6 separate regions of the Homo sapiens genome follow, and all the other regions are reported to be linked to region 5. The links are microRNA targets in miRTarBase. Many come from high-throughput screens and were not tested one by one. Region 5 holds a microRNA gene; each other region holds the end of a gene's coding sequence.
Evidence for each region. The annotated mature microRNA hsa-miR-133b reads UUUGGUCCCCUUCAACCAGCUA and lies in region 5 at 1,640-1,661, opposite strand. An mRNA with a match to its seed (bases 2 to 7 or 8) in the 3' UTR can be bound and repressed. Matches are read on the target gene's strand: a 7mer-m8 pairs with bases 2 to 8, a 7mer-A1 pairs with bases 2 to 7 and ends in A, and an 8mer does both.

Region 1: the mRNA of CDC42 is a reported target of hsa-miR-133b. The part of its 3' UTR that is shown has no 7-base or 8-base seed match.
Region 2: the mRNA of HAPLN1 is a reported target of hsa-miR-133b. Seed matches in the 3' UTR shown: 7mer-A1 at 2,799-2,805 and 7mer-m8 at 2,031-2,037.
Region 3: the mRNA of CPNE3 is a reported target of hsa-miR-133b. Seed matches in the 3' UTR shown: 8mer at 1,819-1,826 and 7mer-A1 at 3,978-3,984.
Region 4: the mRNA of SEPTIN6 is a reported target of hsa-miR-133b. The part of its 3' UTR that is shown has no 7-base or 8-base seed match.
Region 6: miRTarBase lists GLI3 as a target of hsa-miR-133b. Seed matches in the 3' UTR shown: 7mer-m8 at 2,335-2,341.

Annotation. Positions count from the first base shown.
Region 1 is chr1:22,091,250-22,094,249 of GRCh38, forward strand. It overlaps CDC42 (cell division cycle 42), which reads left to right. Exons shown (of 6, transcript NM_001791.4): 6 at 179-3,000. The coding sequence ends at 268. Among named protein-coding and RNA genes, the nearest start is that of CDC42, 40 kb to the left of the region's middle.
Region 2 is chr5:83,638,126-83,642,167 of GRCh38, forward strand. HAPLN1 (hyaluronan and proteoglycan link protein 1) reads right to left here. Exons shown (of 5, transcript NM_001884.4): 5 at 1-3,660. The coding sequence ends at 3,371. Among named protein-coding and RNA genes, the nearest start is that of VCAN-AS1, 78 kb to the left of the region's middle.
Region 3 is chr8:86,557,473-86,561,514 of GRCh38, forward strand. It overlaps CPNE3 (copine 3), which reads left to right. Exons shown (of 17, transcript NM_003909.5): 17 at 816-4,026. The coding sequence ends at 938. Among named protein-coding and RNA genes, the nearest start is that of CPNE3, 45 kb to the left of the region's middle.
Region 4 is chrX:119,622,155-119,626,196 of GRCh38, reverse strand. SEPTIN6 (septin 6) reads left to right here. Exons shown (of 11, transcript NM_145799.4): 10 at 818-862. The coding sequence ends at 821. Among named protein-coding and RNA genes, the nearest start is that of NKRF, 18 kb to the right of the region's middle.
Region 5 is chr6:52,146,607-52,150,648 of GRCh38, reverse strand. It overlaps MIR133B (microRNA 133b), which reads right to left and starts at 1,726; the gene lies at 1,608-1,726. It overlaps LINCMD1 (long intergenic non-protein coding RNA, muscle differentiation 1), which reads left to right. Exons shown (of 3, transcript NR_131248.1): 2 at 3,182-3,281; 3 at 3,712-3,835.
Region 6 is chr7:41,960,946-41,964,987 of GRCh38, reverse strand. It overlaps GLI3 (GLI family zinc finger 3), which reads left to right. Exons shown (of 15, transcript NM_000168.6): 15 at 1-4,039. The coding sequence ends at 658. Among named protein-coding and RNA genes, the nearest start is that of INHBA, 260 kb to the right of the region's middle.

The sequences.
Region 1 (3,000 bases), not on the chromosome of region 5:
ATCCTTCCAGTGCCCTGGACAAATCTTGGTGAAGTGAGATTATTGTGTTGAGATTCAGGGTTGTTTTTAATGTTTCTTTCTTTGCCAACTCTTGGGGGTTTGAATGTTTTAAATTTGAACTCCAACTTTATTATACTGAAAATCAGACCGCCCATTTTTTCTTTCTACCCCTTTTCAGAAAGGCCTAAAGAATGTATTTGACGAAGCAATATTGGCTGCCCTGGAGCCTCCAGAACCGAAGAAGAGCCGCAGGTGTGTGCTGCTATGAACATCTCTCCAGAGCCCTTTCTGCACAGCTGGTGTCGGCATCATACTAAAAGCAATGTTTAAATCAAACTAAAGATTAAAAATTAAAATTCGTTTTTGCAATAATGACAAATGCCCTGCACCTACCCACATGCACTCGTGTGAGACAAGGCCCATAGGTATGGCCCCCCCCTTCCCCCTCCCAGTACTAGTTAATTTTGAGTAATTGTATTGTCAGAAAAGTGATTAGTACTATTTTTTTTTGTTGTTTCAAAAAAAAAATTTTTGTGTGTGTGTGTTTTTTTTTTTTTTTTTTTTGTTGTTTAAAAGCAAGGCATGCTTGTGGATGACTCTGTAACAGACTAATTGGAATTGTTGAAGCTGCTCCCTGGTTCCACTCTGGAGAGTAATCTGGGACATCTTAGTGTTTTGTTTTGTTTTTTTCCCTCCTCTTTTTTTTGGGGGGGAGTGTGTGTGGGGTTTGTTTTTTAGTCTTGTTTTTTTAATTCATTAACCAGTGGTTAGCCCTTAAGGGGAGGAGGACGGATTGATTCCACATTCCACTTCCTAGATCTAGTTTAGAAAACATGTTCCCCATCTGGTGCTCTTAGGAAGGAGTATAGTAAATGCCTCATTTAATAACATACTCCTTTTTGAAAGTTGCCTTTTCTCTCCACCCTTGAGTAGATCCAGTATTTGATGAAACTCATGAAAGTGGGTGGAGCCCATCTTGCCCCTCCTCTTTTCTAGGACGCACTATATGTGACTGTGACTTTCAAGGACATTTGTTTGCCATTTGCTGATTTTTTTGGGAAGTTAATTTCTAACTTCTTTCACTGATAAATGAAGAAAAGTATTGCACCTTTGAAATGCACCAAATGAATTGAGTTTGTAATTAAAAAAATTTTTTTCCCTTTCAGTCATTGTCTTATATGCTTAGCATAGATTTGCAGCTCAGTAGTATATGGTGTTCCTAGAATGCAGCTGAAGACCTGTTATGTAGAGGAAATACGAGGGGTGGTGCTAGAAGACAGACATCTGTGGAATGATTCACATCCTCTCAAGTTAGGAGGATGGAGGCCTGCTTCATTAAGAAGCTGGGGGTAGGGTGGGGGTGGGGAGAACACTTAACAACATGGGGACCAGTCAGGGGAATCCCCTTATTTCTGTTTTGCATATGAGGAACCCTAGAGCAGCCAGGTGAGGCTCTCTAGTTTAATAAAAATCATGGAAAGACTCTTAATGCAGACTCTTCTTAAGTGTTAATAGGGATTTTTTCAGCTTATTTTGGTTGCAGTTTCCAATTTTTAAAAATGTTGAGGTAATCTTTCCCACCTTCCCAAACCTAATTCTTGTAGATGCATTAGTGTTGAACCAATGCTTTCTCATGTCTCAATTCTTTGTATATGCATTCTTTTCAGATGTATTAAACAAACAAAAACCCTTCACAAGCCAGCCTGAGGGTTGTTATTTTCCCTCCGTCTCTTACTTTTCAGATATTGAGGAGTGGGAATTTGACTCTTGATAACATCAATTTCTAACAAACTTTGGGATAAAATTTTAAAGCTTTATTATTTTTATTTTCTGGCATTTTAGTTTGAGATAATATTTAGCCCTCTATATGTTCAGGTTTGTGCTTTCTCCTCTAAGTTTGACCCTTCCCTTAAATACCAAGTAGGTCCATAATAATTCTTAGTGAAGCAGTGTTCAGGAAGCTCACTGCTCATGGTGGAAGGAAATGTCAGTGTACCTTTAATCCATAGATCATTGAAAAGCAGCTCATTTTCCCCCAAGTTTTCTGCATCAGTGGTTCTCCAACTGGAGTGCAGCTTGAACAATGTGATTTTTAAGTTTTCCAGGCATTTCTAAAATGTAGCCAAGTTTGGGAATCACCACACCTAGTTGGTTATCTCAAACTACTACTATCAGAATACAGGTTCTGTGCTGCGAATCTGAATATGGGATACATTTTCTTTAGGTAGCAAGAAAGGTTTATTTACCTTTAGGACATTATACTGATCTGCATGAGAATCTTAGAAACTAAGAACCCTTAAAATCAGTTAAGGTTGGTACACTGTGGCCTCATTTTGATAGTTCTCTGCATGGAGTCATGTTTGGCATGATTTGCATACTGTGCTAGAATTAAGCTGGGTTGGTTGAGAAGGGGTTAGGAAGAGGCAGATGTAAGCTTTAACAGTTCTAACCAAGAAATGCATCTTATTTATTCCTTGTTGACTATACTAGGGAGAGATACCTGGATCATGTGATACCCTGGAAAGCAGGGACATATGTATCCTTAGTGTAGTCAGGGGCGTATAGGTCCTTGACTATTGCTATATCTTTGTCCTAAAGCAATGCTTGACATGATATGGCTCTAGAAGTAGTCATTGGATGGGTATATTATTTTATAAATGAGTAAGTGAAATAAAGCAGGTCATACAGTTGTGTCAACGAATTATCCGTGTATCAGAAGAACAAGGATGATGGGGATTGATTGAAGCTAATGTTTTCTTAAATATTTTCAGATTGATTTCTGCATGTCAGAAGAACTTGGGTAGCAAGTGGATGCAGCTTAGGTTTTCCATTTAAATATTGTTTTCTATTTGACGTAACAAACTTGCTTATAGTCGTGGCTTAGAAGGTGAGTGATATTCTCCAGGGAGTATGATTTAGAGGCTGGAAAGGGTTATTGAAAATAGTCCTTACAGGCTTAGTTTGTGTCAGAATTTATAGTATTTAATACGATGTTAATAT
Region 2 (4,042 bases), not on the chromosome of region 5:
ATAATGTATTGACAGAGTTTGACACAAAGAAAAATAGCTAAGATTCTACAACTCAGAAGAATTAAAAGATACTGCAGTAACACAAAATTGACTTTTAATGTACCAGTTCATTGTATCTTACAGAAAATCAAAACATTTTTTTTTTGGTAATACAGATTGATTCTTCTCCTCAAAGTTATACTTGATATCTATTAAATGCCTTTAAATATTGGTTTTCTTTTAATCAGGTGGCTTAATAACTTTTGTATTTTTCATCTCTTTCGTTGTACATCCATTGCCGCTCTGGCAGTAGTGAGCTACGATACAGTTAACTTCTTAACAAAACGATGTCAGTTATCCGTTGATATTTCTTAATGCATCCTATGCTAAAAACTGATAAGTGATTCCCTTTTAATCCTCCCCTCCTTAGTGGTCAGCTACTCCATGAGACCACCATATTCTTTGGAGTACTAAAATCAAGAAACCCAGAATGGCTGCCAGCAACCAAATTGTAATCTCCTTTGAGTCTACTTCTAATTGCCAAAATAAAAAGTGACTATATTGTTGCATAAAATAACACTTTGACAGGTACCAGCCCCCTTTCCATGAGAGAAAGTTTAAATTTACAAACGCCATATTTGGCTAAAAATTACTGTGACACAATATGACAGCACTCACTTAAAGATGGCTTCCAGTGTTAATGTGACCAACTTATTTTCGTTCTTATGTTGTCTTTTTATTTGAATTGCTTCTTTTTGTTTGGGTTTTCCAATGTAGATGTCTCAGTGAAATGTGCAGATATACTTTGTTCCTTATATGGTCACCAGTGTTAATTATGGACAAATACATTAAAACAAGGGTTCCTGGCCCAGCCTCCCATCTAATCTCTTTGATACTCTTGGAATCTAAGTCTGAGGAGCGATTTCTGAATTAGCCAGTGTTGTACCAACTTTCTGTTAGGAATTGTATTAGAATAACCTTTCTTTTTCAGACCTGCTCAGTGAGACATCTTGGGGAATGAAGTAGGAAAATAGACATTTGGTGGAAAAACAGCAAAATGAGAACATTAAAAAGACTCATTCAAGTATGAGTATAAAGGGCATGGAAATTCTGGTCCTTTGAGCAAAATGAGAAGAAAAAATTCTGCTCAGCAGTATTCACTGTGTTAAGATTTTTTGTTTTTTACACGAATGGAAAAATGATGTGTAAGTGGTATAGATTTTAATCAGCTAACAGTCACTCCAGAGATTTTGATCAGCACCAATTCCTATAGTAGTAAGTATTTAAAAGTTAAGAAATACTACTACATTTAACATTATAAAGTAGAGTTCTGGACATAACTGAAAATTAGATGTTTGCTTCAATAGAAATTTGTTCCCACTTGTATTTTCAACAAAATTATCGGAACATACATAATAATAGTTCAAGTATGGACTTCTTTCAATGAGCTAGCCCCCATATTTGAGGTGTTAAAGTTGTTATTTGGGAGATAGTCCCCTCTTTAAATAATATATCATCTCATCCTAGACCATTTAGGTATCTTCCTTAATTTAGAAGTGCAAGTTCTATTTATACCACCAGTGTTTGAGTTTAAACTTTACAAACTCTTTGGATTTATAGTTTTGTACAGTTTGCATATCCAACCTAACTTAAAAATGTGCATACATAACATTGTCATCTTTTAATATTAAAGCATCTGAAAATTTTCAGATATGTTTTTGATGAAAGAAAGGACCTACTTTTATTACAATATTTTGTCTGAATAATATATGATTATAGTTATGGTTTCATGGACTTCCAATTGTTCTATACCTTCCACACACAGAACTCTATAGAGTAAATTTATTAGAATTATTACAGAGCTTTAAATGCAACCACAATCCATTCAGGAAACAGATTTATTTACTCATGTTCATGGGAGGAAAATCTACATAAAAACATTCATGAAAGCATACCGGCTATGTCATACTTGGATTATTATAGTAAATCCCATTTATTAGAACTCATTGTGAAACAATGGGAAACCATGAAATGTAATTTGAATACAAATATTGGTCCCTGTGGGGTCTCAGCAGTCATAAAAATATAGGAAAACAGAGCTTTATTTAAGAAGATTGGAGCTGCTAATGTGGAAAATTGTGTTTGGAAGCTGGACTTAACCTTTTATTTAAAGCCCTGAAGATTTTAGTGTAAACTCTTTGATGACAGCTTCAGCATTTAATTTAAGCCTAATGATGACCAGCAAGGAAAGTGACATCATTAACCACATTTTCTGTTTGGGATAAGGTTTAGAACTACACTGTTGACTTTTCCCCCCAAACACAGGCACTGGTTGGGTTCTCTCGTGTATATACAAATAGGAATAATAAGAATTTTGAAAGTTGCATCTTTGTTTCTGCATTAGGGATTCCTTTTATAATGTAATTGATTTTCATATAATGTAAATATGAAATATTAAATCAGTTTAAAGTTATTTTTATAGGACAATAACATTTCATAGGCTAACAGAAAATCAAGCTGCTAAATTTTACAATTTTTCTGTCCAGCAGTTTATCTATATAACTGCCCTGAGTAGATGCTAAATGCTGCTTAGCAAATGGCCCTTAGAATTTAAATACAACTCGGTAAAGCTACTCAAAAGATAAAACAATTCCTCTTAGACATGTGTAATTTTAATTATAAGAAGGTAGAAGTCTTTTTCATTGGTTAAATATTATCTGCTTATTTATGTGTCATGCTTCATATAAATGGGATTATTGAGGAGTTTTAACTGTGCTTGTTACTATGGATTGGAATCCATATGAATTTTTTTTTTTTTTTTTGGTCAGAAAGGCAGGATTTTAAAGAGTAAAATATTCTGCCTATTAGAGACTTGAAATATTAACTTTTAGAAAGGTATAGATTGTTCCCTTGTGAAACTGAGTTTTGTATAACCTCTCAGTTTATGTAAAGAAGCCTGTATTTCAAATGTGTTGCTCTAATTTGTTTATTGTAGTGCATTTCAAAATTGTACAAATGTGTAAAGTTTGTGCTTGTGGAACCTGCTGCTCTGAGTAGCTTTACTTTCCTTAATTTAATCCTAGCAATTCTTAAGCTATTGCATGCCCCGTTCATGAAAGGATACTTTGTTGGGATGATACAGCTTAAACAGTTTGGCTCTAAGTCTCCTTACATAGAGCTTCCCTTAAATTTATATTAATTTATAATATATATTGAATGATAGCTTTACAAAAAACAAATCAATGAATTGATCTTTATGAAAATGACTCTTTACAGTAAGTAAAAAAGGGTTATCACAGTTTTGGTAACTTGCATGAGTTCATATTGGAAAAAAAAAACACCTTTCACATGTTCTTAATGACTTTAAAACTGATGCGCTCTAAGGGCACATTCAGTTGTATGCTCTGAAGCAGTAGACACCATACAGCTTATGCTTTTTATCTGGGAAACCCACGAAGCGCACTGCAGCCTCAGTAGGACTGCAGCGCCTTCTTGGCCTAGAGATGGGGTAGCGGACGCTGCCATCCGCCAACCAGCCCGCATCACAGCGGTCATATCCGAGAATTTTCCAGGCAGCAAATATCTGGCCCACTTTTGCAATCTGAGCACCATCATTGAGACAAGCTTGCACCGCTTCATCATAGGTCAGTTTGGTGGGGTGGATCAGATAGTAAAAACGGCCTGTAGAGAAAAGGAGACAGAGTCAATGGGCTGGTCTTCAATTGAGCCACACAGAGATAGAAAGAGCCAAAAACGGAAGTGTTTCTCAATGAAGGGGGATATAGAGCAATGTTTGTAAAATTTTGGGAACATAGAAATGTCAATTAAATATAGTGTCCCTACGTCACTTCCATTAAATTAGTTTTTTCCCTTGCCCCTTAATATGTGTCCAGACATGCCCCTTTTATAGCTTTAAAAAGAAAAGGGAAATGGCAGATGCAGTTTCTGTTAGCTAATTAGTGACTAAAAGAGCCCTTCTGTGGCACTAGAGAAGACAGAATTCCATGTTAAAAGCAAGGGCTATTTAAATTCTAGCTGTACAAGACTGAACCCCAGCACAAGT
Region 3 (4,042 bases), not on the chromosome of region 5:
CTCTGGGATAAATACCTAGGACTACAGTTGCTGGGTTATACGGTAGTTGCATGTTTAATTCTTAAAGCAGTTGTTAAACTCTTCTAAAGTGGCTATATCATTTAACATTCCCACCAGCAATGGAAGGGGAGGAAGTGGAGTGTTGTGATTATAAAGTAGTAATGTTAGGTAGGGATCTTTGTGGTGTTGAGGCAGTTCTGTATCTCAATTGTGGTGGTGGTTAAACAGATCTATCCAGATGACAAAATTGCATCGAATTATACAGAAACAAACACACACACATACACACACACACACACACAAATGAGTAATGTAAAACTAGAAATCAGAGTAAGTTCTGTGAACTGTATCAGTGTCAGCTGCCTGGTTTTGGTTTTGATACTGTACTATAGTTATGCAAGATGTTACCTTTGGAGGAATCTGGGTGAAGGGTGCATGGTACCTTTCTTTACTGTTTTTGCAACTTCCTATGAATCTATAAATGTTGTAAAAAAAAGTAAAAAAAAATTAATACCAAGTAAGTGAAAGAACCACATTTAAAAGTTATAAAACAACAACAACAAAATCATCAAATGTTAGAATGCTGGCACCGAAAAAGGACTTGACAAATGTTAGCAGGGATAGTAATAGCAATCATAAGTAACATTGGCTAGTTAACTCATTCCATATTTCATGGGCGGTTCCTAAGAAAAGGTACAGGCCTATGAATTAGAATTGCTTCATTTTAGTGGCTGCTGAAGTATCCCTAGTCTTTTATGAAAAAGCCAGGAAAATTCAGTTGCTAATAAAGTCACTTTTATTTTGTTTTTCACAAGGCTCCAAAAGAAGCACTTGCTCAGTGTGTCTTGGCAGAGATTCCCCAGCAGGTGGTGGGCTACTTCAATACATACAAACTCCTTCCTCCCAAGAACCCAGCCACGAAACAACAGAAGCAGTGACCACTTCAACAGAATTCTTTTGTGTTATGTGGAGCAATGCCATCTCTCACCCCAAATCGTGTATCTGTCATTCTACGTACTTTTTACCCCCAGCATTTATGATGTAAATCTCTTTCTCTATGGATTATATCTGTTTAAAGCATTCTTTCTAGGTTATTTTGGGGGGACAGTGCCAAGTCCATCTTTGCCCAGTCAATTCAGTGATTGATAGCAATTTACATTAATTGCAGTAAAGCTCTTTGGATTAGAAATTAGTGTGGGGAAAGCTTATTCTGTTGTTGTTTTTGTTTACTTTCATATGATGAAAATGCTGTGTTTAAGTGTTTGTCAATAGGAAGAATGGAAAACTGTTGGGATGATGTGGTTTGCAGGTTGCTGTGCCTGATTCACAGTGTATGTTGTATAAGCCAATGTCCATACCTGATTATGAGAGCTTCTTAAATTATATGATATCAAATTTGTTCCTGTAACTCTGTATACAGTGCTTTTCTGCAAGGTAAAAATAACCTGTCTATGCATCTGATTTTTGCTACAGTTTAGACACTGTGGTTTACAAAACAGCATGCACTCAACTTGGGACTTTATGAAAAGTACTGAATGAGCAGGAAAAGGCACATACTCAGTTTTTTAAATGTACAATCAACAAGTAAAAATAACCTCATGTAAGTAAGCCATTTTTATTTGCCTTTCTAGATATTTTATTTTATTGTGGAAAACTGTAAACATGGTCAGATTTGGCTTTTTTTTTCATTAACTGAGCAAGACTTTCAGGATATTGTAGATGCACAGATGGTAGGTTGTCCTGAATTCTACATTATTAGATTACTTTAATTGAGATTTGTTAAAACGGTTAGGACTGTTTTGTCCAGGAAAGATAAGAGGACCAAACATATAAGGTGAAATTCAGAATTCCGTTTCCTTCTAACTAATGAAAAACTGCTTACTAAAAAAAAATTTTATACTTTCCTTGCTAAGGTCCCATATATTGATTTGTACAGATCCACTTAGTCATTTTCTCCTTTTTTTAAGAACCATTTTCATCTGATTTTTAAACTCACGATACCAGTTATCTGTTAATCAAAATTGCATTTTACAATTTAATAATGTGATATTTCCTATGTCTACAGCATACCTTATTAGGTATAAAACCTACTGCAACTTAGAAAAAGGAAAGAAAAAAGAAAACTTTTCCAACTGCTGCATTAAGATAGGGTGGATTTTATGTGCTTTTTTTTTTTAAGAGTTGAATTTCTTTTCCTGACTTTTACCTTTTACAGCGTATTACTTAGTGAACATTACATTTTCAGAATAGATCCTAATATTTTATTGAGGGCCTATGTGCTAAAAACTATGCATATCTATATATTGGCCAATTATCTTTAATAATTTACCTTTTGAAATTGCATGTTTATCATATATCCTTAAGTGGACACATACAGTGCCATGTTGATGTGCCTCTCAGTTTTATTGAAAAGCTGCCCCACAGCCCATGTCTCTTGTTCTCTGCAATGCCTCAAGGGAGTGAGCTCTCAACCACAGATAGCTGTGGCTTCTCAGAAGCAGCTCATTGCCAAGGCCAGGCTGAGAGGGGACCTGCTTGCTGTGGTGGTTGCCTAGCCCAGATGAGCATTTACCTACCACCTTCCCACTTGGCTAGCTGTCCTTTGGATATGTGCTGTTAACTGGGGAAGGCATCTAACTAGTAGCCTGCTACTCCATAGTATGGCTCAATAGATGACACATCATTTTGACATTATCAATAGGAGAAAAGAAAACTAACCCTTCTTCTGATTGTTTGGAGCCATAGTTGTCTCAGATGTTCTAATTCTCTTTGTATGCTTGGAAACAGCATAGATATGTTGCTGTGGTTTTCAGAATTTTCTCTTTTAATCACAAGAAGCCTTTTAAAAAATGACTTACACATATTCTCAATGTACAGTAAAACAGACAGAAGTGAGCTTATCTGTTTGATGCTGTGGCAGGGTCCCAGTCACTGGGCATATCCTCCTTCTCCTTAACCAGCTCCACAGCAGCCCCTGAGTCACCTGCACAAGGTGCTTGGGAACTGCTGGTTATGAGCATTCCTGGTTTTCTTCAGCCAAATAACAGGTAATCACTGTCAATTGGATTTGGTCTTCATTATTTTATATTCTGATTTTATCAGAATTATTCTATTTTAAAATTGTTTTAAAATTTAAAACATTTAATTCATGATCATGTTCATCAGTAGATGCTATTATTCATAAGAACTGTGATTCCAGCAAACTAGGGTAATTGGTGCCTTTTTACAGTTTTGAATAAAAGCATTTACAATTTCTAAATTATCAGTTTTCACAGTTTCAGCACTCAACCTCATCATACGCTGATTTAATATTGTTTTACATTAAAATAGTCCTTTTCCCTGTTGTGCCACCATTCATTTAAGTGCTGTTTGTTCTTAAAATGCATTTAAAGAAAAATTACCCATATTGACTTTCACACCTCATATAATCAGATCTATTACAAATATATATCGGAGTGACGGTGCCCAGGATAGATGTAATATTTCTTACAGATGCTGGCACAGAGGAAATAATATACCAGCTAATCTAGTCACCTAACCTTGTGGTTAGAATTGCAATTTTAAGACCAGAAAAATTTGAAGTCTGATCAGAGATTTACAACTGTTCATTATAGTGGTGCCTTAGGCAATCTTTCCAAAGTAAATTCAGGGCCCCATTGCTACTTATGCCATATTTGGACATACTTTTTTTTTCTTCAATTTTGTAAACTTCCTGGAAAGCTGTCTTCACTAAGTATCCCCTAGTCTCTATATATGTGGTTAGTAGTCATGGAAATGACACATAAAGTACGCCAGAAGTTTGATGGAACGTGTTAGAAACTGTTTTGTGCTTTTATGGATGTCATACTTGACAATACATGTGTAAGTTACTAATATATGAATTGATGCTAAATATATCTTACATTTGAATTCCTTTTGGATAAAGTTATTTCTTGATGTGACAGAGTAGTGTGTTTTCATTTTTATTCTTTACATGTGACCAAAACAATAGAAAAGTTAAAAATAAAATATAGTGTTTTAGGTGGCCTTTGACTTCATATTT
Region 4 (4,042 bases), not on the chromosome of region 5:
TTGGTGACAGTGCCCCTTTCCAATTCTGAAATGGGTGAAAACCCTGCTGGCATGTGGCACCTTATATTAGCAATAAGGGCCTAACAGAATGACCTGTCTTCTTCTGTACTTCCAGATGCAGAAGTGGCCCTGAATCTTGGCTTCTTATGTAATTTCATGAGCAATTTGTTAACTTCTGGAAGAGCCACCGTTAGACCTGTGCTACCCTCCTCCCATAGTCACGGTAGTGAGTTTTGAGGGCAGAAATGGTGGTAGTAGTATTTCTTCTTGAGAGATGGTGGTTGGATCTAAGAGTCACATATTCAGAATTTCCTTTAGCTGCCCCTAAAGAGATTAAGAAAGTACTGGCCAGCCGTGGTGGCTCATGCTTGTAATCCCAATACTTTGGGAGGCCAAGGCGAAGGATTGCTTGAGTCCAGGAGTTTGAGATCAGCCTGGGCAACATAGTGAGACCTTTGTCTCTACAAAAAAAATAAATAAATAAACATTAGCTGGGCCTGGTGGCACTTGCCTATAATCCCAGCTACTCAGGAGACTGAGGTGGGAGAACTGCTTGAACCCGGGAGGTTGAGGCTGCAGTGAGCCATGATTGCGCCACTGCACTCCAGTCTGGGCAACAGAGAGAGACCCTGACTCAAAAAAAAAAAAAAAAGAGTATCAGTGTTTCAGGGGTTCCTACCAGTCCACCCTTCCCACTTCCCCTTCCTGCTACTCCTAATCACCTTTGACCTCTAACCCTTCATTGTTTGTGTCAAGTCATAATATTTGATTTCCCCTCATGCTCACTCCATCTTCATCAGCTCTTACTGTTTTACAGTTAACTCTGCTGTTTGCTGCATGCTGCATGAGACCCAGGGTCCTGGTAAGCTTGATTAACTCTAAATAGAACTGGCAGTGGCTTCTAGAACATATCTCCCCCAATCCCGCACCCCCAACACAAGCATCTAATCGTAGAAGAAGCTGCTTCATTGGTCTAGCTGGTTTTCTCTCGTGACTTATAATATGCAGAAATAGTCTGGTGTGGTTTCAGGTGTACATGTGGAATGCCTGCCTGCCTGCCTGATTAAAGTGAGGGGTCGTTTTCAGACTTTTGCTGCTAGAACAGCTGGGTAACACAGGTGGATCCTGTGATCAGTATTTGAGGTTTCAGTGTGGGAAGTTTTTTTCTTAAAGAGCCATAATCGGGCCGGACGCAGTGGCTCACAGACCTGTAATCCCAGCACTTTGGTAGGCCGAGGAGGGCAGATCACCTGAGGTCAGAAGATTGAGACCATCCTGGCTAACACGGTGAAGCTCCATCTCTACTAAAAATACAAAAAATTAGCCGGACATGGTGGCACAGGCCTGTAATCCCAGCTACTCTGGAGGCTGACACAGGAGAATCGCTTGAACCTGGGAGGCGGAGGTTGCAGTGAGCCGAGATTGCACCATTGTACTCTAGCCTGGGCAACAAGAGCGAAACTCCATCTCAAAAACAAAAGGAGCTATAACCATTATTTTCAAAATTAATGAAACCGTGGTGATGAGAGAAACTGGGTTTCACAAGCTCCGTCCTGCAATGTCACAGTCAGCATCAACCCTCTCCCATCCCCCTGCATCAGGTTTGAGAATGTCCAGAGTCAATGGAAACTCACTTCTCTGTTTCCCGCTGGTGGCAGTTTCATATCTGAGGGGTTCAAGTCCTCAAATTTCCTTTGACTGTACCCCTCAAAACCATAATAAGGCTGAGAGCAGTGGCTCACGCCTGTAATCTTAGCACTTTGGGAGGCCGAGGCGGGCGGATCACCTGAGGTCGGGAGTTCGAGACCAGCCTGACCAACATGGAGAAATCCTGTCTCTACTAAAAATACAAAATTAGCCGGGCGTGGTGGTGCATGCCTGTAATCCCAGCTACTCGGGAGGCTGAGGCAGGAGAATTGCTTGAACCTGGGAGGCGGAGGTTGCAGTGAGCCGAGATCGCACCTTTGCACTCCAGCCTGGGCAATAAGAGCGAAACTCCGTCTCAAAAAAACAAACAAACAAACAAACAAAAAAAAAAACAAAAAAAAAAAACCCATAATAAAAGCGGAGGAAAATGAAGAGATCTTAGAAATTATAGAGAATTCCTTACATTTAATCCTACAAGTACTGGCTTCATGAAAACCTCTTATAAGGAGATCAGCAGGTAAGGATTCCTGAGTGCTAGATGTTGTGTTAATAGAAGTTTATAAAGTTTCACATAGTTTATAGGGAGACTGAAAGCAGGGATTAAGGACCTTCTATCTCCTCTACTAGACTCAGGTAGTGGATGGAAAGGAAATACAAACATTTTTAATTTAACATAATTAGGGTTTTTTTTGTTTGTTTGTTTCTTTTTTTGAGACGGAGTCTCACTCTGTCACCGAGGCTGGAGTGCAGTGGCACAACCTCAGCTCCCTGCAACCTCCGCCTCCTGGGTTCAAGCAATTCTCATGCCTCAGCCTCCCAAGTAGCTGGGATTATAGGCATGTGCCACCATTCCTGGCTAATTTTTGTATTTTTAGCAGAGACCGGGTTTCACCACGTTGGCCCAGGCTGGTCTCAAACTCCTGACCTCAGGTGATCTGCCTACCTTGGCCTCCCAAAGTGCTGAGATTACAGGCGTGAGCCACCGCGCCCGATGAAGGGTTATTATTATTTTTTTTAAACTTTACCGTGGAAACTTTCAAACATGAGCAAAATAAGAGGATAATACAGTTCAGCCCCCAGGCAACCATAAACATATGCCTAATCTTGTTTCATCAATTACTACAGACCTGCTGAATTATTATAAAGCAAAACTATATCATTTTATCTGTAAATACTTTAGTATATATTTCCAAGAGATAATGATTCTTTAAAAAAACATAACCACAACCCCACCATTATCACACCTACAAAATGAACAATAATTCATTAACATGAAATGTCTAGTCAGTGTTTGAAACATCCCGGTTGTCTCATAAATGCCCTTTTACATTTGGTTTGTTTGGATCAGGGAATATAAAATATAGAGAAGACTTTTCCCCACTCACCCATGTAGTTTATGATTTAAATGGAGAGCCTGCTGTTAGTCACCAAACTGATTGCCGCAGCTATTGCACTGGGGACTCGGGGCAGCTGGCAAAACATCCTGCTTGGAAGCAAATCCTGAAGAGGAAGTCCATAGAGGTTTCTGCAACATAAGGCCCATGAAACCGGGCCAAAGGAAACAATCTTAAAAGAACAGTGACTTGATTTACTGTCTGGCTTAACAGCAAGTCTTGGAGCCCCTGCTAGTTGACTGGAATTAAACAGCAGATTTCCATTTAGGAAGACAGTCAGTTCCTAGAATGCCTGTCCATTCTTTGCACTGTATGTAGTTCCAGTGCGTAGTGAAGTGTCTGACATGTAATAGGAACTCAGTTCATGTGTTATGTTCTTTGTTCTCCCATTTTTAATGAGGTGAGCAGGAAATATGTATTCTAGTTAATGAGATTTCAGTTAATTCAGGTTTCACTGCACGTGGCTTGACACAGTTGCTTACAGGTTTCCCCAAGTAAATCATTGTTAGTGGCCATTCCTAAAATGAATTCTGGCAAAACTATAATTAAAGCTACACTTTACAAGTGAGAGGCAATTGGTAAACAGCTGGAACAGCCAACCCCAACCCCAAGTAGGTTGGCTCTTCCTGGCAGGATTCTCCCTGGCAGACCACGAAAGCAATTTCAGACCAACGAGTCAGGGGAGGCTTTGGCTCCCCAGGATCTGAAAGCAGCAAAGGCAACCCGCCCCCTCCTCAAAGCCCTCATTCAAGGGGTGGATCACGAAGGCCACCTAGAATGCAGGCAGAGTGAGGCTTACTGTGCCTCCACATTTTGAAATTGCTTGAGGCACTACTTATAGCTCTCTGCATTTGTAAAAGCGATTCCTTTGTGACCCCCTACATCGTTGCAGATACTCTACCTCAATCATTATTGGTCCTTAGGAGTGCACAGTATATGGATAGTATACACACATCAAAATACGTCAGCCTTCCCATGAAACCTAGAACATAGGCCATTGC
Region 5 (4,042 bases):
GTGAAACCCTGTCTCTACTAAAAATATAAAACTTAGTCGGGTGGTAGTGGTGCGTGCCTGTAATCTCAGCTGCTTGGGAGGCTGAGGCAGGAGAATCGCTTGAGCCTGGGAGGCGGAGGTTGCAGTGAGCTGAAATCGTGCCACTGCACTCCTATCTGGGCAACAGAGTGAGACCCTGTCTCAAAAAATAAACAAAAACAAAAACAAAACAACAACAACAAAAAACAAAACCCTACAGTGAGCAATGAGCCTTTATGTATTTTTTGAGTTCTTCTCCTATTTTTTTTTTAATTTGGCTCTTTCCTTCTACATACAAGTGCCTGTGGACACAGCATTGTCCTTGTGCTGTTGCCATTTACAGCAGTAAAACAACAGCTACTATTTCTTAAGGGCTTATATTTGGCTCTTTATTAACACTGTCTGTTTTAAGCCTTACGGTAACTGAGGTTGGTATCATTGTCCCCATTTTACAGATGAGTAAACTAAGGCTTGTGCAATGTTAATTGAGCTGCGGAGAGGATATATCACAGCTAATAAATTAGAGGGGCAGCATTCAACCCCAGGTCTTCCTGAATGCAAAGATTTGTGCTAGTAAGCTCTGTGTTCTCCTCTGAGGTCACTGTGGTGGGCTCTAGGCACTTATGCTACCCCATTTGTGTCAGAATACAGCATGTGAACACACATGTCTATAGAATTTTAAACCCAAATATTTACTTATTACTGTCTAAGTTCCAGACACACACCATAAAAGATACAAATCTTAAAAGATAAACTGGAAGGACAGGTCAGAATTCTCCCTTAGTAAAAGGTAGCGATTATGAGAACTTAGCTCATTACAGCCTCCATCTCCTGGACTTAAGTGATCTTCCTGCCTCAGCCTCCCAAGTAGCTAGGACTATAGGTGTGCACTACCGCATTCAGCTAATTAAAACAAAAAAAATTTTTTTTTGGTAGAAACAGCATCTTGCTATGTTGACCAGGCTGATCTGGAACTCCTGGCCTCAAGCAATCCCCTGTCTTAGCCACCCCAAATGCTGAGATTTTAGGCATAAGCCACTGTGCCTGGTGTGACAGGTACTATTATCCCTATTCTACAGATCAGGGAACTGAGAAATGATTGCTTAGTGAATAGATATCTTGGGCTGAATAGATCAATAGAGACTTGATGATACATAATGTGCTAGGCATATTTGGTGGGATAGGTAAGAATTATGCCTTGGAACTAGCCATGCTATAACTTGCAATTCAATTGGATCACACCATATATACATGTCTAATTTCTTTCCTTAGACTGTTAGCCCCTAGTGAGCAGGAGCCCTGTCTTCTATGTCTCATGCTCTTCCCCTGGCTGGCTTAGGGTTGGCACAAACTCCATCCTCAAACTCTTTCTTGACTGTGTGTCTGTCAAAAGCATGTAAGTGGCTGCAGCTGTGAGTGCAAAGGCACAGAACAGTGTGTGTTGAGCATTAAAATCTTGCTCACTTTTGACTCCAGGACTCCTCTTCTCTTCCTTCCTGGGAGCATAAGAATATGGTGAAAAAACCAGAATTGTTTTCTCAAGGAAAGTTTTAGTAGGTAATTTCAGTTGCAGTTGAATCTCTTCTGTTTCTCCAAGGACTGGGCATTGCCAGCCCTGCTGTAGCTGGTTGAAGGGGACCAAACCTCTCAGGAAGACGGACTTGGTTCCGTTTGACCAGCCAGAGCAGGGGGCATCTTTCTTCTGAGGTGACTGCAGCCTCTAGTGTGCAGGTATCTTGGTGTGTCTCAAGCATCATTTGTCTAAGCCTGTAATGCAAAAAGAAGCAGCATTAGCATCTGTCAAATGCCAGGAGCTTGCCTTGTCCAGAATGTCCTCTTACATGATTTGTACATACATCTCATACAATTTGTACATACAAATCATACATAATTTGTATTTCATGTTGCATGACTTCAATTTATTTTTTCTTTAATCTTTAATCTTTTTTCAAATAGAAACATCATGAAGATCAAATATGCTATAGAATTATAGAATATGAAAAATGACAGTATGCCATAATGCTTCCTCTTCCCATTTTCCGAAAGAAATGTAACATTTTGGCATATATTCTTTGAATGCTTAACATTTTAATTTCTTTAAATTATGTTTTTAATTCAAGTATGATATATTTATAAAAGAATATTTATAATATATAAGTGATGGTACATAATGGTAAAACCAATACCCATGAACAACGATCTACTTTTTTTTGTTGTTACTTTTTTGAGATGGAGTCTCACTCTGTCACCCAGGCTGGAGTGCAGTGGCGCTATCTCAGCTCACTGCAACCTCTGCCTCCTGTTTCAAGTGATTCTCCTGCCTCAAACTCCTGAGTAGCTGGAATTACAGACACCTGCCACCATGTCCCGCTATTTTTGTATTTTGAGTAGAAATGGGGTTTTGCCATGTTGGCCAGGCTGGTCTCAAACCCCTGACCTCAGGTGATCCACCCATCTCAGCCTCTCAAAGTGCTGGGATTTTAGCCGTGAGCCATCACGCCTGGCCCAACGATCTACCTTTTAAAAAGAACTATTTTTTACTGTTTTATACTATTGCTTTCTTTGTACTGAATGCTTTTTCCAATTTATTTCTTTATGTTTCCCCCCGGAGGTAACAATCACACTGAATTTATTTTTTCTTATGATTTTGATATTTTTCTTTATAGTTTTTACCATTTATGCATATATTTCTAAACAATATATATGCATATTTTAGTATATAATGGCATCATATCATAGGTATTGTTTTGTGACTTGATATTTCATTTAAAATGATATTTGCAAGATTCATCCATATTGATGTGGTAGCAGCAGTTTATTAATTTTCATTGCTTTATGGTTTTCTACTGTGTGAATATACTATAATTTATTTATTCTCCCAGCCATAGACATTGAGGTTGTTTGGTTTAACAAGGGGATAGCATTGACTAAACTGTTTCTCAAAGGAGGTGGAAAAATCTTTGATTCTTGCAGATTTTAAAGGAGAACTCTGGATTTGTATGTTGGCCTTGTAAAAGAATGGCAACACTTACCAGCCCGAAACATCTGGAAGTAGGACCCAGAAATTAGTGCTATAACCTGCCCTTTGGGTGATTCCGATGCAGCTCAAGTTTGAGAACCACTGAACTAATAGGAGTACCCACTGGTTTCTCTCTGTTTCTAGGGAGGTGTGAGCTGTGGGAGAGAGCTGACTAAGAAGAAGAAACTCCCCAGAAAGGTGGCCTGCCAGTCTTCACGATGTATGGGAGCAGGTGGGAAAAGAGGTAGGCAGAAAGGATAGTTTGAATGATGCTAGAAAATTGTCCTTCTCCCTGGGGGCTAGGCATTGCAGCCCTTTTATTTTCTCTTCCTGATGAAGACAAGTAAAACTAAGTGGAATGCATGTGGCCTTGGAGTCACACTTATCTGGGTTCAAATCCTACCAATGCTTTCCTGGCTCTTTTGCTTCTAGGAAGTTACATAACATCTTTTAACCTGAGTTTCTACATCTGCACAGCAGGAGAAGGTTGTATCTACTCTGCCTGCTTGTTGCGAGGCTTAATGACAAGGAAGGAAAGGTGCACTGTGTCCCTAGTGGGCACCATGGACAGTGTCAGGGGTGTGGGAAAGTCCTAGAGACAATCCTGACTGCTTTGGAGGCCAAGAAGTTCACTCTCAACTCCAGCCTGTCCTTTACATGTTTCCCTTCCTCAGCTGCAAGTGTTTGCACTTCATCATTGAAATTGTTGAAACTGCTGATCAGGAAACACAGAATGAGTTTAACCAGCGATGCCAACTTCTGCAAGATGGACTCCAGCTTGGGAGCTCTGTATGGAATAAATAAGATATCCCAGACATCAAAGCACTCAATAAGGCACTGTAGAAATGGCAACAAGGTAAAAGCCCACAATGATGGTGGTGGTGAGAAAGCAGGGCACCACAGAACATGGCTTGGTTCTAGAGTGGTCTGTGCAGGGTTACGTTGAAGCTTCTGTCTTGGCTTGTCCTCTCCTCCTTGGTGTGCATTCTCCTGGCCCTGTAGTCC
Region 6 (4,042 bases), not on the chromosome of region 5:
CTGCCTGCCAGGGGCTCACGGCATGGGCAGCCAGCCGTCAAGCTTGGCAGTTGTCAGGGGCTACCAGCCATGTGCCAGCTTTGGGGGCAGCAGGCGCCAGGCTATGCCGAGGGACAGCCTTGCTCTGCAGTCAGGACAGCTCAGTGACACAAGTCAGACCTGCAGGGTGAATGGTATCAAGATGGAGATGAAAGGGCAGCCCCATCCGCTGTGCTCTAATCTGCAGAATTACTCTGGTCAGTTCTATGACCAAACCGTGGGCTTCAGTCAGCAAGACACGAAAGCTGGTTCATTCTCTATTTCAGACGCCAGCTGCCTGCTACAGGGGACCAGCGCCAAAAACTCTGAGTTACTTTCCCCAGGTGCTAATCAGGTGACAAGCACAGTGGACAGCCTCGACAGCCATGACCTGGAAGGGGTACAGATTGACTTCGATGCCATCATAGACGATGGGGACCACTCCAGCCTGATGTCGGGGGCCCTGAGCCCAAGTATCATTCAGAACCTTTCCCATAGCTCCTCCCGCCTCACCACGCCTCGGGCGTCCCTCCCATTCCCAGCGCTGTCCATGAGCACCACCAACATGGCTATCGGGGACATGAGTTCTTTGCTGACCTCCCTAGCGGAAGAAAGCAAATTCCTTGCAGTTATGCAATAGGCTTTAGGAAAAAAAGACTGCAACCAACGGAAATCAATAGGAGTTGAAGAGATTAAACTGACTTTGTTTTGGCTGTTTTTTTAGTTCTGTATGTATTTTAGCAATCTCATCTCACCTAACTGAGATGTGTTTCAATTATATTCCTTTTATGGAAAAGGACTCTGAAAAACCCTAAAGTATTCTAGGGAGAAACTGTCTTCCATTTCAGTTTTGAATCAGTATTGTTACACTCAAACCACCCTCTTTTTAAAAAAAAAAAAAAAAACTGTAAGCCCCGCCCCCTTTTTAGTAAACCGATGTAAATTTGTGATGTGCATATTCTTCTTTCTTTTAGAAGAGCAGTCAAATTAAAGGATTTGACATGTTTTGCTGTTGCTCAAAGGAAATAGGAGTTGGTGTGCTTGTGACCAAGGGGTTACACTTCCAGCTTTTAAAATTCTCCTTTACATGTGCTCAGTGTTTTGTTTTGTGTTTTGGTTTCTGTTTTTTATTTTAATTCCCACATTGGGCACAAGAATCAGAATATGGATAGCTAGTTTAAGAAACTTTTGTGGGTGCACTGTAGCATAGATGACAGAATATTGATGTTCCCCCCATCTCCAATTCAGTTCAGGGCATTCCACAGTTAAACAGAAATGGGAACGTGGGGCTCTTATAAATGAAATGGGCGCTCACAGTTTTGGTTTTCAGCTCTTCATGTCTGTAAGTGTGCTTTGGGGGAGGCTATGTCTGTATGGTCGATTCTCAGTTATCACATTTGCCTCTCCTCCCACTACCTTCATGAACATTCAGTGCTGTTTCGCACTGCAGTTAGAGAGAAGGGACGGACAGTTGGTGACACTCAGCCACATTGCTACTTTTATCTGTTCTGGTAAGAAGTTAGATAGATGGTAGATTGAAGCAATTGGGTAGAATTAGTTGGGGGAATATTTATGAGTTGCTGTGTTTGTTGATTAGTTCCATCTCTTTCCCATTTTAACTGAGAATTGATTATATATAGCTCTAAGTATATAGGTATTTAAACAACCCCACAAGCGGCTGTATCAGTAACATTTATTAATTCCACTATAGTGAGGGAGGATTTCCATTCTAAATACCTTATTTTGAGGGATTTATAAAACTTAGTTGTAAAAGAGAAAGCCCACATAGTGGGAATAAATTGCTTCAGCCATTTTTAGTATTTGAGAGCACTAGGGAAGATGTTTAGTAGCTGTGTGGATGCCTTTTTTCACACCCTGTCTATTGAATGCTGCATCCATTCACGAAGTTAAATGTTACATGCAGTTAGTCCTTAATGTGGACTGGATCTGTACTTTTGTTTTGGATTAAAACATTTAAAGATTTTTGAAGTGCAGCTACTCCCCACGTGCATTTGATACACATAAAAGTCATACTGTGTGTGCACAAAGAGTACATGGATTTTCCAGCATATTGCTTTAAAAAATTATATAAACTGTTAAAATATTAACACCTCAGGCTACCTGCTGTATTCTGTCCCATTGACCCCTGGAATTGGATTTACTGCAAGTGATTGATAATTCAATTATGTGGCTTTTCCCCTTTAATCTTGCCATTTAAATTACAGTAGAAAGACAAAATCAAGTAAAATAAAGTGTTAGATAATAGAAAGAGTGTTAAGACCAGCCCACTTTTCTCATGTTTATGTTCTTTCATTTGGACCAAGAATCTCCGCATGGAGGTTGATTTGCCACTGGGGACTTTGGCTAAGACTATTAGGTTTGCTTTCAACTAGATGTTCCTGAGACAAGCAGAGGGACACTGCAATTCCCCTTCCATGCCTGCTGTTCTCCCCCATGTAAGTCTTCTTTGAAATTAACGGATGTGTCTCCTTTGGAACAGCCCCATAACAAAAGAGAACTACTGATCTGAGCATAGGAAAGTAGAGGCTCTACCACTTTTCAGTTGAAAAAGCAAGACTTTCTCTGTGTTTCTGAAACAAGGCATAATGTTGTCACAGAATCAGAGATCCAGTCTCACTTTTCCACAAATCTCCAAATCTCCAGTCTTATCTTGTGTGCTCTAATGGTTTGGTTCAATCCCTTTCCAACTCTTGTTTTCAAAGCATGGGGCCTGAGTGTTCTCCACTCCTCCTAAGAAAGGAGCTTGGGTGGAAGGGACCATGCTGACCTCCTCCATCAGAGGGCTCTTCCAGTAGTATTCTCGGATGCAACCTCCATTTCTCAGTTACCATTATTTCCTGTATCAGCTTTGTCCTTCCTGGAGGGATGCACAGTGATCCGGCCCACCACTGTTGTTGTCTTGTGCTTCTGCTCTTTCCTATGGTTTCAGGTTATTTTCTGGGTTTCCCCTATTCTTCTTTTATTTCTTTTTTTTTTTATATTTGCTTTCCTTTCTACTGCTTTTAGATTTGCAGGAGATGCAAGTTTCAGCTCAATGTTTGGCTTCTCTCAATATGGAAATTTCAGAAGGACAGAGGAGAGGAGGGAGGAAGAAGAAAGTATACTCCTCCAGAATTTCAGTGATCTGTTGTGGCAGTCCAGTGGAAGGAAGGTCTTTTGAGGTCACTTAGAAGCATCTTTTTGGGACATCCTTTTGGGATCTCTGTAGGCTAGGCATCTCATATCTTGAGACTCACCCCCAGCCTCCAAGCCTCTCTCCATTTCTCTAACCTATGCATTTTAGAGCGAGAGGACCGCCTCACTAGTGTCACCATCCTGCCTTTTCTAAAACATGCAGGCTCACACATTCTACTCCTGCTTAATGTCTGTGTTAAACGTTTTCTAACCATTTTTGTTTTATTTTTCTGAAAAAGTTAACCCCTCCCAACTCCTCACACATTGGCTCTTCCTCTTGAGCCACAAAGTTTTGATTCTTGCGATGTATGTGCCTTATTTTATGTTAATCTTGTCAATGAGAGGGACCAGTTGGTGTTGCCCAATCAGCACTCCAAGGCTGTGTGTGCACCAGCCAGAGAGCGCACGGTGGTAGCAGAGTCGAGGCTGTCTTGTATCCTGGTTTCATGTGTTGTTTTGAACTGATAGGAGGATGTTCTCTTCTGACAAGTTACCCTTGTGTATCCTGCAGACATGTAAAATAAAATACAAGTTCATTTTTTTCACCTTTTTTAGATTTTTTTAAAAAATAAAATGTGTAATCCTTTTTTTAAAAGAAACACATGTAAATACATTTAAGTATTGTAGGCATAGCGTTCAGATGTGACTGGCCCAGGCGTTCCTCGGACAAGCCTGCATTCCCCGTGATCACGCCCACCTCAAGCCCAGGGGCTGCAGCCCAGCCACAGATGAACTCTACCTTTGCTTTCAGAACCACTTAGTCCTTTTGTAACAAAGAAAAAAAAATGTTTCTTACAATGTCAATAAAAAATTCTTTGTATGGAAATTT